3 separate regions of the Homo sapiens genome follow, and regions 2 and 3 are each linked to region 1. The links come from fine-mapping of genetic effects on gene expression. A gene starts in region 1. Each other region holds a variant in brackets. All regions are shown on one strand. Distances are between the middles of the regions. Region 1 holds the start of NTSR1 (neurotensin receptor 1). Region 2 holds the start of NTSR1-AS1 (NTSR1 antisense RNA 1). Region 3 overlaps NTSR1 (neurotensin receptor 1).

Region 1 (4,063 bases):
TCTGTACTTGGCCGGGCGCAGTGGCTCACGCCAGCAATCCCAGCACTTTGGGAGGCCAAGGCGGGTGGATCACGAAGTCAGGAGATGGAGACCATCCTGGCTAACATGGTGAAATCCTGTCTCTACTAAAAATACAAAAAAATTAGCGCCTGTAGTCCCAGCTATTCGGGAGGCTGAGGCAGGAAAATGGCGAGAACCTGGGAGGCGGAGCTTGCAGTGAGCCAAGATCGCGCCACTGCCCTCGAGCCTGGGTGACAGAGCGAGACTCCATCTCAACAAATAAAAAAAATAAAAAAATAAAAAAACCTGTGTACTTAACTGGTGAATCGTGTCTTCCAGAGGACAAATCTGGCCTACTCCAGCCTATTCTAGTTGGATGGAACACCTCACCTCACACCCGACAGCCCATTCGACCTCGTTCATTCCCCGTGGAGACCCATCAGTAACAGCCCTGCCCTTCATTCAGCCGCTATTCCCATTTTACAGACGACTCAATCGAGGCACAGAGACGCTAAGCACACTCGCCCAAATGTGAAGTAGCAGGGCCAACATTCAATCCTATCTACTGGCTTCCAGCAAAGGGATCACTGGCGTTTCCTTTGATGCCAAGATTTCTAAGCTCTGATGTTTGTGAGCTGCAGCCCCCTGACAAGAGTATCAGGCTCCGGTTGAACAGAGAAGTCCAAAGCAGGGCGAGAACGGACGAATAATCACAGAGTCCCGCTGCCAGCCACCGGCTCAGAAGCCTTGAATTCTCCTAGCTGGGCGGGCCCGGGAGGGGGTTCCTCAGCCTCCCGCTTCCCTCAACACCCTGCGACCCCCGCCCCAGCCTGCCCAGGTTTCCTGCTCCCAGCACAGCAGGTGCAGCCAGCCATGTGCACAAAGGCCAGGCTGGTTCCCTGGGCTGCACTCGAGCAGCTCCTCCCAGCCCTGCACACATGGGGCAGCAGCTCTACCCAACCTCTCCCAGGGGTTCTGGGGAGGAGGGAGCAGGGGAGGGGGCGGGGAGGGCCCAGAGAAGGGACAGTAGTGCCCTGGGGGCCCCTGGGCAACCCAGACATGGAGGGGGGGGCAAGCTTGTGCCTGGCCACCTATGCCAGTGCCACCAGGTGCTGGGGGGGACACGGAAAGGACAGGAATCTTGCCCTCACCTGGCTCCCGAGCCAGGGGCCGGGGCACCCTGTGAGGACACTCAGAGGGAGGGAGTGTGCAAAGCCTGCAGGGCCTGGGAGGATGCGTGCTGGGGCTGCCTCTCCCAAATCCTGCTGGGGCGCAGGCTCTCAGGGTGGCTTCTGATGACAAATCCAGGCAGTAATAAGGGGCCCAGGGCATCACATCCCATAGCGTCATGAGACCAGCCCAGGGTGCCAGATGCAGGGCCCTGAGTGGGGAGGGTGCTGCTCTGGGCACCTGCTTTCTGCCCTCCCTCATTCACCCCTCCCCAGACTTTGATGAAACCATCTGTGGCTCCCGGCCTCTGCAGGACCCAGCCCCTCAGCTCCTCAGCCCCTGCAGGTGTCCCTCGGTACTGCCTCACGCCATCCTGCCCCAGGTGATAACTATGCCCTGAGCCCCCACCATTTCCACTGGGCACATCCCAGAAATACGCATTCACAGACCAGGCACGCCCATGACTGCGGCCAGATTTTAAAAGGAATCACCAGAAATGTAATCTCCAGTGGTCCTAGAGCCCCCTGGGCACCCAGCTTCTGGCACCCTGTGGACACCCAGGAGTGGGGGTCGGCCCAACCAGCTGCGCAGCCGCCCAGCCCTGCCAGCGGGGAGCTTCCTCCCTCCCTGCCCTCCGGATACACCCTCACCCCAACTGAGCGAGCCCAGGGTTGGGGGAGGTGCATAGTTCCCTTCCTAGCCGGTGCGAGAAATTGCGGAGAACAGGGAAGAGGGTGGCAGGAAGGGTCTGGTGCACGATACCCGCCGCGCCCGCTCGGAATCCTGGTTCCCTGGAGCGCTCACCCCAGCCCGCCCTGCCCCGGGGAGCGCGAGGGGGCGACCCGCCAGGCTGCACCCGGGCGGGGCGGGGATGGCGGCGGGGGCTGCCTCCCTCCTCCGCCGCCACCCCCCACTGCTGGGCGCGCCGCGCGGCCGCCGGCTCCGTGGAGACGCGCAGAGCCGGGAGGGCGCGGGCGCGGCGGGAGGTGTGCGGGGCTGGGGTGCGCGGAGAGCGCGAGGGAGGAGATTCTGAGCGAGGGAGGGGAGCGCGCCCGGGCAGCAGTGCGTGCGCTCCTCCCGGCGCCACAAGCTCGCCCCGCGCAGCCCGAGCCGGGCTGGGCGCTGTCCTCGGGGGCCTGGGGAACCGCGCGGTTTGGAGATCGGAGGCACCTGGAACCCGTGGCAAGCGCCGAGCCGGGAGACAGCCCGAGGAACCACGGGTTCTGGAGCTAGGAGCCGGAAGCTGGGAGTCCGGAGGAGAGCGGAGCCCGGAGCCCGGAGCCCGGGGCGGCGCGTCTGGGTCTGGCGCTTCCCGACTGGACGGCGCGCCCGCTGGTCTTCGCCACGCGCCCTCCCCTGGGCTCCCGTTCATCGGTCCCCGCCTGAGACGCGCCCACTCCTGCCCGGACTTCCAGCCCCGGAGGCGCCGGACAGAGCCGCGGACTCCAGCGCCCACCATGCGCCTCAACAGCTCCGCGCCGGGAACCCCGGGCACGCCGGCCGCCGACCCCTTCCAGCGGGCGCAGGCCGGACTGGAGGAGGCGCTGCTGGCCCCGGGCTTCGGCAACGCTTCGGGCAACGCGTCGGAGCGCGTCCTGGCGGCACCCAGCAGCGAGCTGGACGTGAACACCGACATCTACTCCAAGGTGCTGGTGACCGCCGTGTACCTGGCGCTCTTCGTGGTGGGCACGGTGGGCAACACGGTGACGGCGTTCACGCTGGCGCGGAAGAAGTCGCTGCAGAGCCTGCAGAGCACGGTGCATTACCACCTGGGCAGCCTGGCGCTGTCCGACCTGCTCACCCTGCTGCTGGCCATGCCCGTGGAGCTGTACAACTTCATCTGGGTGCACCACCCCTGGGCCTTCGGCGACGCCGGCTGCCGCGGCTACTACTTCCTGCGCGACGCCTGCACCTACGCCACGGCCCTCAACGTGGCCAGCCTGAGTGTGGAGCGCTACCTGGCCATCTGCCACCCCTTCAAGGCCAAGACCCTCATGTCCCGAAGCCGCACCAAGAAGTTCATCAGCGCCATCTGGCTCGCCTCGGCCCTGCTGGCGGTGCCTATGCTGTTCACCATGGGCGAGCAGAACCGCAGCGCCGACGGCCAGCACGCCGGCGGCCTGGTGTGCACCCCCACCATCCACACTGCCACCGTCAAGGTCGTCATACAGGTGAGCCTCAGTAACCAGCCCCGGGGCTCCCCTCTCCTTCACCCCAAAAGCAGTGCCAGTGGTGTGCCTTCTGGGTAGGGAGTGGGAGAGATGTCACAGAGACAGTCTACTCCTGCGAGGCTGGGAAGGCGGTTGGGGCAGCTTGGGGGCAGCTCCAGAGTTGCCAGGCTCAGCCCCTATCTTCTTCCCTCCTGTTGAGGGGATGGAGCCCCTGCCTGTGACCTCTCTGGTGTTGGTGGCTGGGCCTCGGACATCTCTGAATTCCTTAAGCCTAATGGAAACATGTGCGCTGGCACCTGCGTCTCCAAAGGAAGAGTAACACTTTCATCAGCTTCTCAAAAGACTGTGCCACCAACAGGTGATGTTCCTTCCTCTGCAGAGAAGCCCCCAGACTGGCTCTGCCGGTGCCTCCCAGCTGCCTGCCCTGACCCAAACTTGGGAGTCAGAACAGAACCTGATGCCGTGTTGGGCCAGTTCCTAGTTTAGCCTCAGCTTTCCCATCTGTGTGATGGGGTAGTGATAGCATTGACCTCAGAAGGTAGAGCATTGGAGAGAGGACGCGTGGGAAGTGTTTGCATGGCCCCTGACACATAGAAGGGCTCACAGGCACTATTATTGCGGGATGGTGGGGACGATGTTTCTGCGGGGAAGGTTGTGAGGATCTGCGTGTGGCGGCGGTGTTGTGGTGAGGTGTGTAAAACTGGAGCCGAGTGACTAAGGGC
Region 2 (4,063 bases), 27 kb after region 1:
CTGGAAAGCTCGGCTGTGGCTGACTCCTGGCTTAGGGCTCAGGCCTGTCTCACCTAGCAATGCAGGGTGAGCCATGTGGGCTGGCTTCTGGGGATGGGGAGGAGAGATACACACATGGAGAAAAAGAGGGAGATAGAGAAGAGAGAGGGAGAGAGAAAAGGAAAGAGAGGAGAGAGGGAAAGGCAGAGAGAGAAACAGAGGGAGAAACACAAAGAGAGGGAGAGAAGGAGAGAGAGACACAGAGAGAAAGGGAGGAACAGAGGAGAGAGAGGGGAGGAGGGGGAGGGAGACAGCACCCTCTTCTCCCTACCCTTGCCTGGGGTCTCAGCTGAGAGAGGGAAGGCTCTGTGCTGGGGAAGAGGCCTCCAGCAGGGAGTAGTGACTGATGAATGTATGATTGCTACTTTATCTCAATAGAGGATTCGAACAGCCCCCAGGCAGGGTCGCATTTTAAATGATGGTTTTGGGTGCTGAGCCAGCCCAGCTTGGAGGGGGTTTCGTTTCACAGATGAGGAGCCTGAGGCTGGGGGAAGCCACTTGCTCAGATGCACACGGCTGGGGCCGGCGGCAGGTTTGCCCGACCTCGAGTCTGCGCTTCTCATCCTGGAAGCGACCGCCTTGTCCCCTGCGCAGCCTCCTTCTCTGGCTCAGCCACGTGGGTTACTACTGAGTTCACTCTTCAGCCCTGGTGGGGGACGGGCAAGAGATGGGGCGTGAGGGGCGGGCGGAGGCAGCGAGGTCTGGGATGAGAGCTTTTCTGGAGCCTTCTCTGGAGTGTGACCCCCTTCCCCGCAAAAAAAAAAAAAAATCTTGGCTCAGCTCTTGGGCTTCGGTGCAGTAGGGGCTTTGTGGCCGATGCAGAGGAAGCCGAGCTCTGCTCCTGGAAGGACGTGGCCCCTTGTCTTACCCAGGCTTCATTTTGGGGCCATCTTTTTAGGTGGTTGAAAATGAGTAACTCATTCTTGACCTTGTGCAATGCCCACGCCCTGTGTCCGGGGCTGACCTGGAGGCTCTGGGTTCTCTGCTGAGCAGAGCTGGGGCCAAGACCACCCCTGGGGAGCGAGGAGCAGGCGCTGGTGTGCCTGGCCCAGGTGGCTTCCCATAAAAGCTGCAGGCAGCCCTGTCTAATGTGGCAGCCCTGGGCCACACGTGGCCACTGGGCATTGAGACATGGCTGGTCTGAGTGAAGATGAGCTTCAGCCTGAAATCCGCACCGGGTTTTAGAGTTAATGCGGAAAGGCGGTATACAATAGCTCACTAATACCGTTGCAAGTTGATATGATATTTTGAATACATTAAGTTAAATAAGATATCGTATTAAAATTATCATAGCTGTTTCCTTCCACTTTTGTAACATAGCTACTGGTACATTTAAGCCTCACGTGGCCTGCATCCTATTTCCACGGGACTGTGCTGCCCGAGCCCCTCCCTGCTGATGAGAAGCAGCCCTCGGGTGGCTTTGGGGTGTGTCCAGAGCCTGTACAGCCTCCCCTTGGGGTGGGGTGCCGCGTGCGGGGTGCCAGGCACCAGCCGGTGCTGAGGCCCCATGTGGAGGCAGCCCTGCATGATGGGCAGCAACCAGTGGGGTGCCATCGTGTGCGGTGACGTGCACACTAAAGAAAGACGCTCAGCTCCCTCCTC[T/C]GCCCCGCCTGGCCGCCAGCTCAGTGCCAAAACCATGGTTAGGGGGTGGGAGGCCACGGGTGCCCTTGGGGACCTACCAGGCCTGCAGGGTCCTTGGCAGAGGGGCAGTGCCTGGCACCAGGAGGACACTGTGCTGGAAGGTCAGCCTGTTCCCACAGCCAGGGATGTGGGGCTCCCAGGTAGCCCCATTCATAGTTATTTGAATTGCTGTGATGGAGGCAGGCGGAAGAGGTGGGACTGCGAGGGAAGGCAGGGGCCCCCCGGGGAGAGAGTGGGTGCCTCCTTCCCTTTCCTCAAAGCCCAACGGCCTTGCAGTGAGACTGCCACTATACAACAAAGAGCCAGCACCGCTGTGCACGCTGGAGTCTCACAGATGAGCCGATTATGTCTTTGTGACAAACACATTATTAGGAGTGAGATGAATTCCTTCTGTGGGCGGGGATGATTCAGAGAGAGGCGTCCCAGCCCCAGGAACAGCCTCCCCGCAAGGTGGCCTCAGCCTCCCCCATGCTCCCCTGGAGGCCGCTCCCTGGCTTGGGGGGTGGGTAACACGGGAGTCCCCCCGACACGGCGAGGTGAGCTCACCTCCTGAGGCTGGCGTGCAGGGAAGTAGGAAAGGGCACACACTGCGACCGGGGACCAGGGACAGGGTCTTCCCCGCTGTGACCTGTGGGGCTGTGCAGGGGGCGGGAGCAGCCCCCATCCCAAAAGGAAATGGGACAGGAGTTGCCAAGAACAGTTCCCCTTACCCTCCAATTCCTCACGGGTTCAGCACTTTCTCTGAGGGGGTCTGGTCTGAATCCCAAATTCAGATTCTGTATTCAACTGTTCCCTTCATTACAAAGAACAAATTTCCGAGCCCAGTAATTCCCGTTTAAATTTGTCAATTTTCATCCCTCGATAGAAATCAGTATGTGGTGATCACAAAAGCCGGGGTATTAGCCCAGTGGACAGTTTGTTCTGAAACTTGTCCCTTCGGGGCAGGGCCTGGGTTAGGAGGCCTGAGATCTGCCTGGAGCCTGGGGTGCCTCGGGCAGGGGCATCGTGGCTGGGGATTCTCTGCACTTGCCCCATGGAGCAGGGCGGGAAGGGAAGCCAGGCTCCTTTCCCTGTCTGGGTCTGGGGCTGCTGCCCTTGGCAGCTGGGGAGACCCTGGGACCCCAGAGGCAGAGCCCCACTCTCTGTACCCTCAGGCGCAATGCCCTGAAAGACAGGCGCCACTTTGTCTTCAGAAAGGCAGGAACCAAACCCCTCTCACAGTTCCAGAAGCTTCCCTGAGTCCCAGTTTAGACGCAGAATCTCCTCTGTGGATCACTCCAACTGGGGAACCAGGAGAGGGGGTTTGGGAGAGGAGGGAAGTGGCTTCCACCTGTGGGTGGGGCAAAGAGAGGGCTCCCAGCTATGCAGGGCGGGCCCAAACCTCCAGCAGAGCCCCTTTCCCAGCGAGGACTCCGAGGACTCCGAGGCCCTGGCCTGTGGCTCCCAGGGAACAACCTGGACCCTCAGCATAGGACCCGCAAGCTGAGACCCTCCTCTGTTTTACTGCTTCATTTTCCATCTGTGACCAGGGCCCAGGCCACATGCACACACCTGGCGTAGGAGTTACTTCGTGATGTGTTTGGCTGTGTCCCCACCCAAAATCTCATGGGAATTGTAATCCCCATAATGCCCCGTGTCAAGGGCAGGACCAGGGGGAGGTGACTGGATCGTGGGGGCGGTTCCCCCAGGCAGTTCTTGTGAGAGTGAATCTCATGAGATCTGATGGTTTTAGAAGCGTCTGGCGTTTGCCCTGCTGTCACTCACACCGTCCTGCTGCCCAGTGAAGAAAGTGCCTGCTTCTCCCTCCACCATGATTGTAGGTCTCCTGAGGCTCCCCCAGCCCTGCAGAACTGTGAGTCAATTCAACCTCTTTCCTTTATAAACTACACAGTCTCGGCAGTTCTTTAGAGCAGTGCGAAAATGGACTCACACACTTGGCCTGGGCCCAGTCTTTCCCGGATGGATGGTGCGATGATCAGCCCCGTGTTCGTGAGGACGGGGCCAACCCAGACCCACCTGGAGTTGTAAAGTTTCATCAGCACTCAGCCCCACCTGCTCATGTACGTACTGCTATGGCTGTGTTGGCCACAGCGGCCACAGTGAGTGGTTCTGCTCAAAAGTTGAGATCCTCCGGCCCACGAAGCCACAGTGACTCACTCTCTGGACCTTCACAGAAAGCATTCACCCACCCCACCCTAGGATGCGTGTCCAGAGGTGAAATGGCTCCCTCCGTGCAGTCGGAGAGCCCCTTGACTCACGGCTGCACCCCTGCTCATCAGGCACAGCGGCAGGCACGTGACCTCTGTGGGGCCACTTGTCCTACTTGCAGGGAGGGGCCGAGCATGGGATGCAGCATCCACGCCTGCACTTAAACGAGCCCTCT
Region 3 (4,063 bases), 37 kb after region 1:
CATGGCGACCAGCCCCAAAGGGTGAGCCTTTGAGTTGTTCACCAATCATTGGGGTTTCGAACAAGCCTGTGCTGACGGCCCTGGCACACAGGGTTTCTGAATTAACTCTGCCATCGTTCCTGGCCTCAGCTGTGGTGGGGAAGGCAGTTCGGGGTCATGAGAACCCTGAGGGTTGCTCCCAAGTCAGTGTTTGCTGGGTCTAGTGGGGGCCTCTCCACCTGGAGTCTGTCTGGGAGGTTAGAAAAGACCGTCCGTGAGCCTGGGCCCTGCTGGGGCTGGTCATCTGCTCAGGGAGAGGGCGATCCCCTGCCAGCCCAGCAAGGCCACCCCAGCGGTCACCCCCTTGGGAGGGTGTGGACAGGAGCCTCCCCTCCCACCCGCCCCGCAGCCTCTGCAGCCATCTTACAAAGCCTCTGGGTTCTGCAAAGCAAAAGGGTTTTGCACCTTCCCACTCAGCACAGGCTGGCTGCGGAGCCGGGAAGCAGTGTGCCAGTCTGGGGCTGTCTCTTGATCTAAACACAATGGGATGAATTAGAGAGAAAGGCAGAATACAAAACAAGCAATTGCTCTCGAAGAGCGAGGTGAGAACGCCCTGCCTGAGGTCGAGGGGCTGAGGCCGGCTGTCTGGAGCCTGTGTCGGGGGCACCCTCCTGCTGTCTGGCTGTGCCCTCACCTGTGGGCAGGCATACCGTGTGCACCCCTCCCGCTCCCCACCTGGTCTCCACGGCCAAGCTCAGACCAACCACCCAGAGGCTGCGCCCCGGTCCAGATCCCCCTAACACACCTGCTGTTTCATTATCTAACCTTTCACTCCACCTCCGTCCTCCCCATCAAAATTACACATGCGAGGGGGCAGAGGCCAGGCTGTCCCTCCCATAGGTCCAGCCCCACCAGCCGTCGCCCCAGCGTGTCCCATCCCAGCCTCCCAAGCCGCAGTCCTGTGCCCCCCAATTTGCTTCCTTTCCCACACCCAAGGGAGCACAGTCAGTGCTCCAGGAACTGAGGCAGCACCTCTAGGCTCGCTCTTTTAGAAATGAGGCTGAGGGGCTGGACGCAGTGGCTCGTGTTTGTAATCCCAGCACTTTGGGAGGCCGAGGTGGGCGGGTCATGAGGTCAGGAGATCGAGACCATCCTGGCTAACATGGTGAAACCCTGTCTCTACTAAAAATACAAAAAAATTAGCCAGGCATGGCGGCGTGCACCTGTAGTCCCAGCTACTGGGGAGACTGAGGCAGGAGAATGGCGTGAACCCGGGAGGTGGAGCTTGCAATGAGCTGAGATCACACCACTGCACTCCAGCCTGGGTGACAGAACAAGACTCCGTCTCAAAAAAAAAAAAAAATACAAAATTAGCCAGGCATGGTGGCACATGCCTGTAATCCCAGCTACTCAGGAAGGCTGAGGCAGGAGAATCACTTGAACCTGGGAGACGGAGGTTGTGATAAGCAGAAATCGCGCCACTGCACTCCAGCCTGGGCAACAAGAGCAAAGCTCAGTCTCACAAAAAAAAAAGAGAGAAATGAGCCTGAGGCCCAGGAGGACCTGCCGAGCTCACAGCTGGCCAGGGA[A/G]CAAGCCAGGCCCCCACTTCTGGCACCAAACCCCAGGCATTCGGCTGCTTCTGAGAGGCTTGAGGCCCTACCAACCACTCAAACGCCATTCCCAGACCCAGACAGGGCTAGGAGGCAAGGGGTAGCAGCTGAGGGGTGCACACAGCAGAGGATACTGCCAGAAGCACGAATGAGATTCCCATGGAGGCAGCCCCACCTCCAGACCACCACGGCTGTCACAGCAGACACCCCTGTCTCCCACCATGACCTTCTGCTCTGGAACATCCACCCCTAAAACCTCAGACCCAGCCACTGAGGCCCATGGCCCAGAGCCCAGCTACCCAGCCGGCTCCAGGGAGGGTGGCCCAGCCAGTTCCTGCCACCTGAGGATGTTGGTACACACACCAGACTCAGAGGGAGACCCAGACAGACAGCAACACAAAGACAGAGAGAGAGACACAGAGAGGAAAGCAGAGACACAGAGAGACATGGAGAGAGACACAGAGACAGAGAAACAGACACATAGAGGAAAACAGACACAGGGAGACACAGAGACAGAGATACAGAGACACAAGAAAACAGAGACAGAGATAGAGACAGAGACACAGAGATATAGAGATAGAGACACAGACTCAGGAAAACAGACAGAGAGAGACACAGGAGAACAGAGACACAGAGATACAGAGATAGAGACACAGGAACAACAGAGACACACAGACAGAGACAGACACAGGAAAACAGTGAAAGACAGAGACACAGAGGAAAACACACAGATATACAGAGAGAGACACAACAGAGACAGACACAGGAAGGAAAACATACAAGGAGACAGAGACACAGAAAAACACAGAGAAAAACACAGAGACATCACAGGAGAAAGATACAAAGACAGACAGAGACACATATTCTGCCTCGCCTCCAAATCCAGCTTGGCGTGGACCTCGCTGGGACTGGATGGCCTTCTCTACAGCTGCTGAACAGCCTCGCCGTCCCCAGGGCTTCCCTGCTGTTGGCCATGACCCTCCCCTGCTGCTTGGAATTGCAAAGCCAGGCGGTCTGGGAGTCCCAGCCACCACGCGTCCCCCAGAATATTCATGGGGCTGGGCCAGGTGACTCCCTGCTCTCTTTAGAGACAAATCGAAAGGCGCCAGGGTGCTGTGGCATCAGTGGCGCTGAGGCATCCTCTGGCCGGCCCTGCATGGCCTTCAAGCTGCTTGAGTCCATTGGACAAAGTCCCTCAAGGCCACCCTATGTGGCCAGGGCTGAGACGCCTAGAGAGGTAGACGCTCAGCCTGGGCAGGGACGGGGGCCACACTAGCAGAGGTCAGAGAAGGGGTCAGCCAGGGGGAAGGTCAAGGCTGCCGCCCGGCGGGTCACCACCAGGCCCCCACACTACCCCAGCCTGGCCGTCTGCTTCCTGTTCAGTTCTCACCCCCTGAGTTCTCAGGTCTGTGAGTTTGCTGGACCGTCTGCCAGGAGAGCTTAGGGTCCCTGTAGGCTTGTGGGTGCCATCAGGTCAGAGATGAGAAGTCACCTCCAAGCAGAGGCCTTCCCGGAACCCCCAGCACTACTGCAGCCAGGCTGCCGCCAGCATCGCTGTGTCTGTAGCTCTTATTGGCCCTGAAGTCACTGCAGGTGGTTCTTTCAGTGGTCTCTCCTCCCCAGGATCCAAGACCTCTGACGGCAGGGGCTCCTATGGCTTCTCCAAGGCAGTGATGTTTGTGGGAGGGAGGAAGGGAGAAAGGTGGAGGGAAGCTAGACTAACCAAGAAAAAAGAGAGAAGACATAGCTAAAATCAGATATGAAAGAGGAGACTTTACAAGATGCCACAGAAATCAAAAGGATCATAATAAACTGTGAACAATTTTATACAAACCAGCTGGACAGCCTGGAAAAAATGGATACATTCCTAGAAACTCACAAGCTTCCTAGAGTCAATCGCGAGAAATGGAAAATCTGAAAGGACCAATAACAAAGAAGGAGATTGAATCAGTTACCAAAAACCTCCCAAAAAAGAAAACCCCAGGGCAGGGCCAGGTTGCTTCGCCGATGGATGCTACAAACATTTAAAGAAGAATTAACACCAGTCCTTATACAATTCCGAAAATGTGAAGAGGAAGGAACACTTTCTAACTCATCTTACAAGGTCAGCATTACCCTGATACCAAAGCCAGAGAAGGACGCTATGAGAAAAGAACCAAGAGGCAAAAATCTTCAACAAAATACTGGCAAACTTCATTCAACAGCATGTTGAAAGGCTCATCCACCATGAGCAGGTGGGATTTATCCCTGGGATGGAAACACAGTTCAGCACATATGAATCAGTAAATGTGATCCACCACATGAACAGAAGGAAGGACAAGAGCCATTTGATCATCTCATTTGATACAGAAAAAGCATTTGACAAAACTCAGCATCCTTTCATGATAAAAACACTCAACAAACTGGGTGTTGAATGCATGCTACACAATAAAGGCCACGTATGACAGACCCACAGCTAACACCACACTCAGTGT

What was found.
Region 2: its variant is fine-mapped to the expression of NTSR1 in cerebral cortex (GTEx, PIP above 0.99).
Region 3: its variant is fine-mapped to the expression of NTSR1 in whole blood (TOPMed, PIP above 0.99). The same link has a PIP of 0.9 or more in T cells, blood mononuclear cells and macrophages.

What each region holds. Positions count from the first base shown.
Region 1 is chr20:62,706,581-62,710,643 of GRCh38, forward strand. It overlaps NTSR1 (neurotensin receptor 1), which reads left to right and starts at 2,256. Exons shown (of 4, transcript NM_002531.3): 1 at 2,256-3,341. The coding sequence starts at 2,628. RefSeq lists enhancers at 1,220-1,733, 1,734-2,246, 2,456-3,002, 3,003-3,547.
Region 2 is chr20:62,733,508-62,737,570 of GRCh38, forward strand. All of the region lies in intron 1 of NTSR1 (neurotensin receptor 1), which reads left to right. NTSR1-AS1 (NTSR1 antisense RNA 1) reads right to left here and starts at 1,852. Exons shown (of 2, transcript NR_199009.1): 1 at 1,719-1,852. RefSeq lists an enhancer at 1,276-2,121. The variant T/C (reference allele first, on the strand shown) is at 1,642.
Region 3 is chr20:62,743,228-62,747,290 of GRCh38, forward strand. The region is part of intron 1 of NTSR1 (neurotensin receptor 1); the gene reads left to right. Among named protein-coding and RNA genes, the nearest start is that of NTSR1-AS1, 9.9 kb to the left of the region's middle. The variant A/G (reference allele first, on the strand shown) is at 1,569.